Linked DNA regions of Homo sapiens: region 2 is linked to region 1. A link means that fine-mapping ties the variant in region 1 to the expression of a gene that starts in the linked region. Tissue or cell type: whole blood. Region 1 holds a variant in brackets; the other region holds the start of a gene. All regions are shown on one strand. Distances are between the middles of the regions.

Region 1 (4,118 bases):
TATTAAATTCCCCACTTTCCCCCAAAACACAATTACCCACACGCAGCAAGGGGGTGCGGAGGCCCCCCAGCCTGGCTCCTGCAGCCTGGGCCAGGAGGACCAGCATGGGGACACAGGAGCTATCAGGCAGGAGTCAGGCTGGGGGACGAGGGGACACGGGATGGGGTGACAGACAAGGTAGTGCAAGGGCAGAGGCTTCTGGCTGGAAGTCCTGGACCCCCAGCATAAAGGAGGGGAGGAAAGGAAGGGGGCTCATATAAAGCAGGAGACCCTGAGCCCCGACACAGGTGGCGTGGGGGAGGACACGCAGAATGACGAGGATAAAACCGGCTCTTAGGACCGTGGCTTCTGTCCTGGGTCTCAGGGCACACGCGCGCACACATATACAACACAAGATGCTTCTGGCATGAGGGGCAGGGTCCCAGAGACCCCACCCTCATTCAAGCTAAAAACTGGGAGGGGCTGAGCAGGGGCTGGGACCAAGACCCATGTTTTACCAGTGGGGCGAGTTTTTTTGGTTTTTCTCTCCAAAAGGGAAATTTAAAAATCTACAACAAATCACACCAAATTCATTAAAAGTGATAAAAACCCAGCCTCCCCCTCCTCACTTGAGCTTCAGACCGGGCCAGAAAAGCTCAACGATGAAGAAACAGGAACATGCCCAGGTCAGGTCTCCCCACCCAAACACAAGTCCCGGAGTGGGAAGCTTGGAGCTGGGATGGCATGGGCAGCCCCAGCCGCCAGCGTCTGTTGACTGCCAAGAGCTGCGTGAGGAGGGGGCAGAGTGAGAGAGACCACCCCAAGCGAAAAAGGTTTCCGAGGACAAATTCTAAAAATATGAAAGATATTTTAGCCGAAGGTATCGGAGGGCTTGATGGCTGGGCGAGGTGGCAGCGGGGTCTCCGCGGGGCCGCCATCAGCTGTGCTGCTCCAGGTAGGCGGACAGGAGCAGCCCCGGCGGCAGGAAATCCAGGTGCCGATTACTGACCTTCATCTGCCGCTTCCCCTCCAGGTCAGCACCTGCAGACGGGACCAGCGGGGCAAGAACGGGAGGAATTTGGGAGCCGCGGCAGGTAGAGGTGCCTCGGACCTGCACCACCCTCGCTTCTTCCCAGGGAGGTCACCGCCAGCTGGTGTGTGCTGGTCACTGCGGCCTGGCTGGCCCTAAGCCCGCAGGTCCGGGAGCCTGGCTCACAAGAATACCTAAGGCTCCCTACAGGAGCACTCTCCTCGGGCCCATCTCACTCCCCGCTGGCACTCATTCCACTGTGCGGATGGGGACCCTGAAACGCACTGGGCCTGAGGCCGCATGGCCACTCACACGCCTGCCTGGCGGAGTGTCCGGCCTCCCCTCAGGCTCCCTGCCCTGCAGAGGTGGCTCTGAGGCACCCAGGTCCTGAGTGGTCCAGCTCCCACCGGCCTCCCCTTCCCCATCTCCCCCTCACTGCAGAAAAATGAATGACCTGGCCAGGCGCAGTGGCTCATGCCTGTAATCCCAGCACTCTGGGAGGCCAAGGCAGGAGGATCATCTGAGGTCAGGAGGTCGAGACCAGCCTGACCAACATGGTGAAACCCTGTCTCTAGGGCTGGGCGCGGTGGCTTAAGCCTGTAATGCCAGCACTTTGGGAGGCTGAGGCAAGCGGATCACGAGGTCAGGTTGAGACCATCCTGGCTAACACAGTGAAACCCTGTCTCTACTAAAAAAAAAAATATATATATATATATATACAAAAAATTAGCAGGGCGTGGTGGCGGGCACCTGTAGTCCCAGCTACTCGGGAGGCTGAGGCAGGAGAATGGCGTGAACCCGGGAGGTGGAGCTTGCAGTGAGCTGAGATCGCGCCACTGCACTCCAGCATGGGTGACAGAGC[G/A]AGACTTGGTCTCAAAAAAAAAAAAAAAAAAGAAACCCGTCTCTACTAAAAATACAAAATTAGCCGGGCGTGCTGGCCGGCACCTGGGATCCCAGCTACTCGGGAGGCTGAGGCAGGAGAATCGCTTGAACCCGGAGGTGGAGGTTGCAGTGAGTAAAGATTACGCCACTGCACTCCAGCCTGGGTGGCAGAATGAGACTGTCTCAAAAAAACCAAACCTAACCAACCAAAACAAAAAAAAAGAGCCACGTCCCATGTGAGCTCCGCGCCTCAGCAGTCCCCTCTGCCTGGGACCCCCCCGTCCTCTACTCCCCATCTTGCTGGGACCCCTCCTCTTCCGTGTCAGGACCACAGCTCCACACCCACCAAGCTCCAAGCCCCGCACCCCCAGCCAAGGCCGGATGTTCTGAGCAGAGGCAGGCATGGGGGCTGCGTCTCCCACAGAGGGAACAGAGGGAGGCATCGTCCGGTTGCCATGGAAACTGTCACCTCGGCAACTCCAGGCGGGGCGGCAGAGACAGGTGTGAGAGGCTCAGGACCAGATGGGGTGCCTGGGGCCGGCGGCGCCTGCACAGACGTTCACTACGGGGGTGAGTTCTGAGACTGCGCCCCGTTGGAAAAGTGGAGCGCAGGGGCCAGTAGGGGGTCTCGCCTGAGGTCCCACGTGTGGTATGTGGGAGGCCTTAGAGTTAAATGCAAACCTTCCAGACACTGCGTCCCCCCATCTTATCTCTGGCTCTGGGAGGTCCCTCAAATCCAGGCTTCATCACCCCCACCCCGGGCCCCGAAGATGCAGATGGAGGAGTGTCTGTGTCCAGCAGCCTGGTTGTGTCTGCGGTCACCCTGCGTGGGGCCGCATATGCAGGGAGCTTCTGGTGAATTCAAGGCAGGGTCCCACTGCCACCCCTGAGTTCGTAGCGTCCCCACTCCAGCCCCCTTCCCCACCTCCCCACCAAGCCCCACTCTGAGGAACCAGGCCCCTGGGACCCTGGCCACTTTCCCAGGTTGAGCTGGCCAACTTGGGGTCTTGGGGGCCACCGGCACTTACTGGCCGAGATGAGGTCCATGTACTGGCAGACAGCGTGCAGCAGAAGCCTCTCGAAGCTGTGGGGAACGGGCAGTGAGCGCCGTGCAGGGGCTGCAGCGTGGGGTGTCCGCCCACCTGGCCGCAGCCTCGGAGGGTCCGCTCGCCTGGCCGCCCCCCCTTACCTGTTGTCTAGCATTGCTGTGTACACGGCCTGGGGGGACACGGAGAAGAACCGAAGCAGCCGCTCCTCCCAGGTCTCCAGCGTTTCCTGGGGAGAGCGGCCCGGTGGTCAGGGAACTGCGGGACCTGTGGGTGGGGGGCCAGGGAGGTCCAGGGCCCCCAGGAGCCCACAGCGCTGGGCTCAAACATGACCTCTGACCCACCACGTGAGGCTGCTTAAGTGTCTCTGAGGCCACCATGCCACCTCCTGCCTGTGCCTTCCGTGGAGGAAACTCCTACACACCCTGCAGTGCCCGCCTTCGTTGCCCCCGCCCTCCTACTCAGGGCCCTGGTGCCGCTGTCTGTATCCTGCCCTGTTTCCCCTGACACGACCTGCACCGGGTGAGAACCTGTGCCTGGGAAACGGGCCTTCAAAAAAGACCAGGCAGGTAGAAAAGGGAGGCCCGGCAATCCCCCACTCACCATGGGGATGCGGCTGCGCTTGAGGACGGCTCGCAGACGCCGGCTGATGCGCTGGAAGCACTCGCGGGGTGTATAGGCGGGGTCCTCTGCAGGAGTGGGGGAACAAGGGGCAGTCTTGGGGTGCTCGTCCTGGCCCTGCCCACCTGCCAGACCACGCCCACCCAGGGAAGACCACGCCCATCTGTGCCTTGGCCTCTCCTGCCCACCAAACCACACCTTCAACGATACTGTGGCCCCATCCAGCCAGCAGACCCTACCCCCACGAGGCCCTGACCCCAACCCATCCAGCTGACCCTACCCTCACCTGTATGTTCACCCCAGCTAGACATGAGGCCCCACCCACTCCAGGCCCACACAAGCCAGCTAGCCCCACCCCTACCCACTGCCATCCAGATCCTGCCCCCACATGCTGGCCACATCCACTCCATGTCCCGCCCCATCCATATCCTACCTACCCCATCCTGGCCCCACACACCCCATTGCCCTGTCCCCATCCATACCCTGGCCTCACCCACACACTAGGTCCAACCCACTCCAGGTCCCGCCCACACCCCATCCATATCCTGCCCCCCATCGCG
Region 2 (4,097 bases), 39 kb before region 1:
CTCTACTAAAAATACAAAAAGTTAGCCCAGTGTGGTTGCTCATGCGTGTAATCCCAGCTACTCGGGAAGCTGAGGCAGTAGAATCGCTTGAACCCGGGAGGTGGAGGTCGCAGTGAGCCGAGATTGTGCCACTGCACTCCAGCCTGGACGACAGAGCAAGACTCTGTCGCAAAAAAAAAAAAAAAGCAAGAAAGAAAGAAAAAAAGAAGGAAAGAGAAAGAAAGAAAGAAAAAGAAAGGGAAAGAAAGAGAAAAACAGAGAAAGGAAGGAAGGAAATGAGGCTAGGCGTGGTGGCTCACACCTGTAATCTCAGCACTTTGGGAGGCCGAGGCAGGCGGATCACGAGGTCGGGAGATCGAGACCATCCTGGCTAACACGGTGAAACCCATCTCTACTAAAAATACAAAAAATTATCCGGGCGTGGTGGCGGACGCCTGTAGTCCCAGCTACTCCGGAGGCTGAGGCAGGAGAATGGTGTGAACCCGGGAGGCGGAGCTTGCAGTGAGCTGAGATCGCGCCACTGCACTCCAGCCTGGGCGACAGAGCGAGACTCCGTCTCAAAAAAAAAAAAAAAAAGGAAAGAAAAGAAAGAAATGATCCATGGTGAAGAGAAAAGCCGGGGGAACCTCGTGTGCTGCTCCCCCTGGGGACAATGTCTGAGGTCCTCCCCACAAGGTATCCCCATCCTTCTGGTCCCCGCACCATGGATTAATGCAACGTGAATCCCGCTGGCCCCTGTGGGGCAGATGTGAAAAATGGAGCTACACCATGAGCAGGCCTGCAGTCCCAGCACTTCTGGAGGCTGAGGTGGGAGGATCACTTGAGCCCCGGAGGTCGAGGAGGCTGCAGTGAGCTATGATTGCACCGCTGCACTCGAGCCTGGATGAAAGAGCAAGACCCTGTCTGTAATAAAACAAAAACAACACACACAAATCCCCACCTCACAAAAGGCCCTATGGCCCAGATTCTGAGAAGTATTTTATTTTAATTTTTTTGTAGAGATGGGGTCTCGCCGTCTTCCCCAAGCTGGCCTTGAATTCCTGGGCTCAAGAGATGCTCCTATCTGGGTCTCTCAATGTGCCGGGATGGTAGGTGGGAGCCACTGTGCCCGGCCAGCCCTGACTCTGTTCATCAGAACCTGCCCTCAGTGAACAGTTTGGGAGGGGGCGTGTGATCCAGGCTCCACCAACCCAAGGCACCCTTGAGACTTGGCTGGAGTGAGGAAGAATTTTAGGAGGGGCCCACTGAGCCACTGGGTTGAGTGTGGGGTCCCTGGAAACACACCAGGGGAGGCTGGTGAGGAAAGAAGCCATCAGAGAAGAAAGGAGAAGCCAGAAGCAGACACTGGACATTGTTCAGGCACCTGGATCAAGCCACACCTGAAGGCGGACATCCCTGAACTTTCCATATAACTTTCATGATTCAGGCTCCACCCAGTTTGTCTGGGTTTTCCTGTCCCTTGTAGCCAGTCTTCCCAGCTGCCTCTGCCTTGGCCTTTCCAACTTTCTATTCGTCAGGGTGTCAAGCCCCAGAGGCCACAGGGACAGAGACAAAGGTGTCAAGTGACCTTCCTACCCCCAACAGACCTTCTCTCTAATATAGAGGAGGAAAAGAAGGGAGGGTAGCAGGACAAGAAAGTGGGTTGTTTACACGCTGTGGCCTCCAGCTAGGATTGTGAAACACCCTGGGGGACTCTGGGTGTGGTGAAGTTGGGGCCGGGGTGGGTGCAGCCCCCCTCTCTGCCTCCTGCCCATCTGAGGGACTGCCCCCCACCAGGGCCAGCAGGCTGTCAGGCTCACAGAGGCCCGAGGGTCTCCCAGCGACTTGTCGACTCTGGTGTGAGTCTGGCAGGAGGTAACCCAGTCCCGGGGAGGGCGGAGGCTGGGCGGGCGAGTTCCCCTTTCCCCAGCTGGGCCGCTGCCCACCCGGGGAGCGGCCCGCCCCCTCCACCCTCATAAAAGCACCCCCAGGGCCCTGCCTGGGTCAGTGTCTCAGCCACAGCGGCTTCACCATGCACAGCTGGGAGCGCCTGGCAGTTCTGGTCCTCCTAGGAGCGGCCGCCTGCGGTGAGGAGGCCTGGGCCTGGGGTGAGGGACAGGGCTGTGTAGGGGCGTGGTGCTCCCTTCCGTCACACGGACGGTCCTCCAGCCCCTCCAGGTGGGCAGGAAGGGGGTGTCTCTCCTCACTAATGGAAGGCTCTGAACGCTGAAAAATTCTAGAAAATTCAGATTGGAAATCGGAACTTTCTGGAGTCAGCTTTTCTTGCAGACAGAGTCTGAACGTCTGCGTGGAAAACTTCATCTGCGTGGCTGACTGGGCTGGCCCAGGCACTGGCTGGGTCAGCCCCATTTCTCTTATGTCCAACTGGAAGGCACTGCGCCCAGGGTAGGGCGCTGGGATCTGCCCCCGGTCCCCAGCCCACTGTGGGTTCTGTACTCTGGGGCATTCCCGCCCGAGGGTATCTGAGTTTGCAACGCTGAGGGGCCCCAAGACGGAAACGGGATTCTTTTTTTTCTTTCTTTTTTTTTTTGATAGGGAGTCTCGCTCTGTCGTCCAGGCTGGAGTGCAGTGGTGCGATCTCGGCTCACTGCAAACTCCGACTCCCGGGTTCAAGCGATTCTCCTGCCTCAGCCTTCCGAATAGCTGAGATTATAGGCCACGCCGACTAAATTTTGTATTTTTTTTTAAAGTAGAGACGGGGTTTCACCATATTGGCCAGGCTGGTCTTGAACTCCTGACCTCATGATCTGCACCCCCCCCTCCCCCCCCGCCCCCGCGCGGCTTCACAAAGTGCTGGGATTACAGGCGTGAGCCACCGCGCCCAGAGATGGGATTCTTGCGGGGAGCGGCCTGGGGGGTGAGAGCTGGGATCCCGTCAGGCAGCCTCGCCCGGGGGAGGAGTCCACCCCGCGGCCCTCACGCGCCCGCCCACCCACAGCGGCGCCGCCCCGTGGTCGGATCCTGGGCGGCAGAGAGGCCGAGGCGCACGCGCGGCCCTACATGGCGTCGGTGCAGCTGAACGGCGCGCACCTGTGCGGCGGCGTCCTGGTGGCGGAGCAGTGGGTGCTGAGCGCGGCGCACTGCCTGGAGGACGCGTGAGTGCCCGCGCCGCGCGGGGGAAGAGCCCGGGTGCGGTGGGGGGAGTCGGCTGGCACCGACCGCGGACTCCGTCCGGTCCCCAGGGCCGACGGGAAGGTGCAGGTTCTCCTGGGCGCGCACTCCCTGTCGCAGCCGGAGCCCTCCAAGCGCCTGTACGACGTGCTCCGCGCAGTGCCCCACCCGGACAGCCAGCCCGACACCATCGACCACGACCTCCTGCTGCTACAGGTCGGCCCCGTGTAGCGCAGTCCCTCCTGCGGCGCTGGGATCCCCGGCCCACCCTCACTCCACCCCGCCTACACCGCGCCCCGGGTCCAGCCTCGACCTCTCCTGCTGCATGGGGACCCCGCCCCACAACCCCCACACCCTCACCCCGGGTCTAGCCTCGACCTCTCTTGCTGCGCTCGGAGCCCCCCCACCCTCTGCACCCTCACCCCGGGTCCAGCCTCGAACTCTCCTGCTGCATGGGGACCCCGCCCCACAACCCCCACACCCTCACCCCGGGTCTAGCCTCGACCTCTCTTGCTGCGCTCGGAGCCCCCCCACCCCCTGCACCCTCACCCCGGGTCCAGCCTCGACCTCTCCTGCTGCATGGGGACCCCGCCCTACAACCCCCGCACCCTCACCCCGGGTCTAGCCTCGACCTCTGCGGCTGCACTGGGAGCCCCCCACCCCCCGCTCCCCCTGCATCCCCATCCCGGTTCCAGCCTCGACCTTTGCAGCTGCACTGGTGAGCCTCGCACCCACCCCATCCCCACCTGCACCCCCACCCAGGGTCTAGCCTAAATCTCTCCTGCTGCACTGAGACCCACGCCCCTGCCCTGATGCCCACCTCCCCCGTCCCGTCTCCCCGAGCCTAGCGGCATTCTCCCCAGCCTCGCACCCCCGCACCCCAACCCTGACGTCCGCCTCCACCCTCAGCTGTCGGAGAAGGCCACACTGGGCCCTGCTGTGCGCCCCCTGCCCTGGCAGCGCGTGGACCGCGACGTGGCACCGGG

Evidence for each region. PIP is the estimated chance that this variant, and not a neighbour inherited with it, causes the effect. A credible set is the group of variants that fine-mapping cannot tell apart.
Region 2: it holds the start of CFD, and the variant in region 1 is the best candidate, but not a certain one, in a credible set for the expression of CFD in whole blood (INTERVAL, PIP 0.73).

What each region holds. Positions count from the first base shown.
Region 1 is chr19:896,521-900,638 of GRCh38, forward strand. It overlaps R3HDM4 (R3H domain containing 4), which reads right to left. Exons shown (of 8, transcript NM_138774.4): 5 at 3,541-3,626; 6 at 3,081-3,166; 7 at 2,920-2,975; 8 at 1-1,020. The coding sequence ends at 917. Among named protein-coding and RNA genes, the nearest start is that of RNU6-9, 5.1 kb to the left of the region's middle. RefSeq lists a silencer at 2,256-2,456. The variant G/A (reference allele first, on the strand shown) is at 1,872.
Region 2 is chr19:857,679-861,775 of GRCh38, forward strand. It overlaps CFD (complement factor D), which reads left to right and starts at 1,986. Exons shown (of 5, transcript NM_001928.4): 1 at 1,986-2,066; 2 at 2,939-3,095; 3 at 3,183-3,327; 4 at 4,021-4,097. The coding sequence starts at 2,012.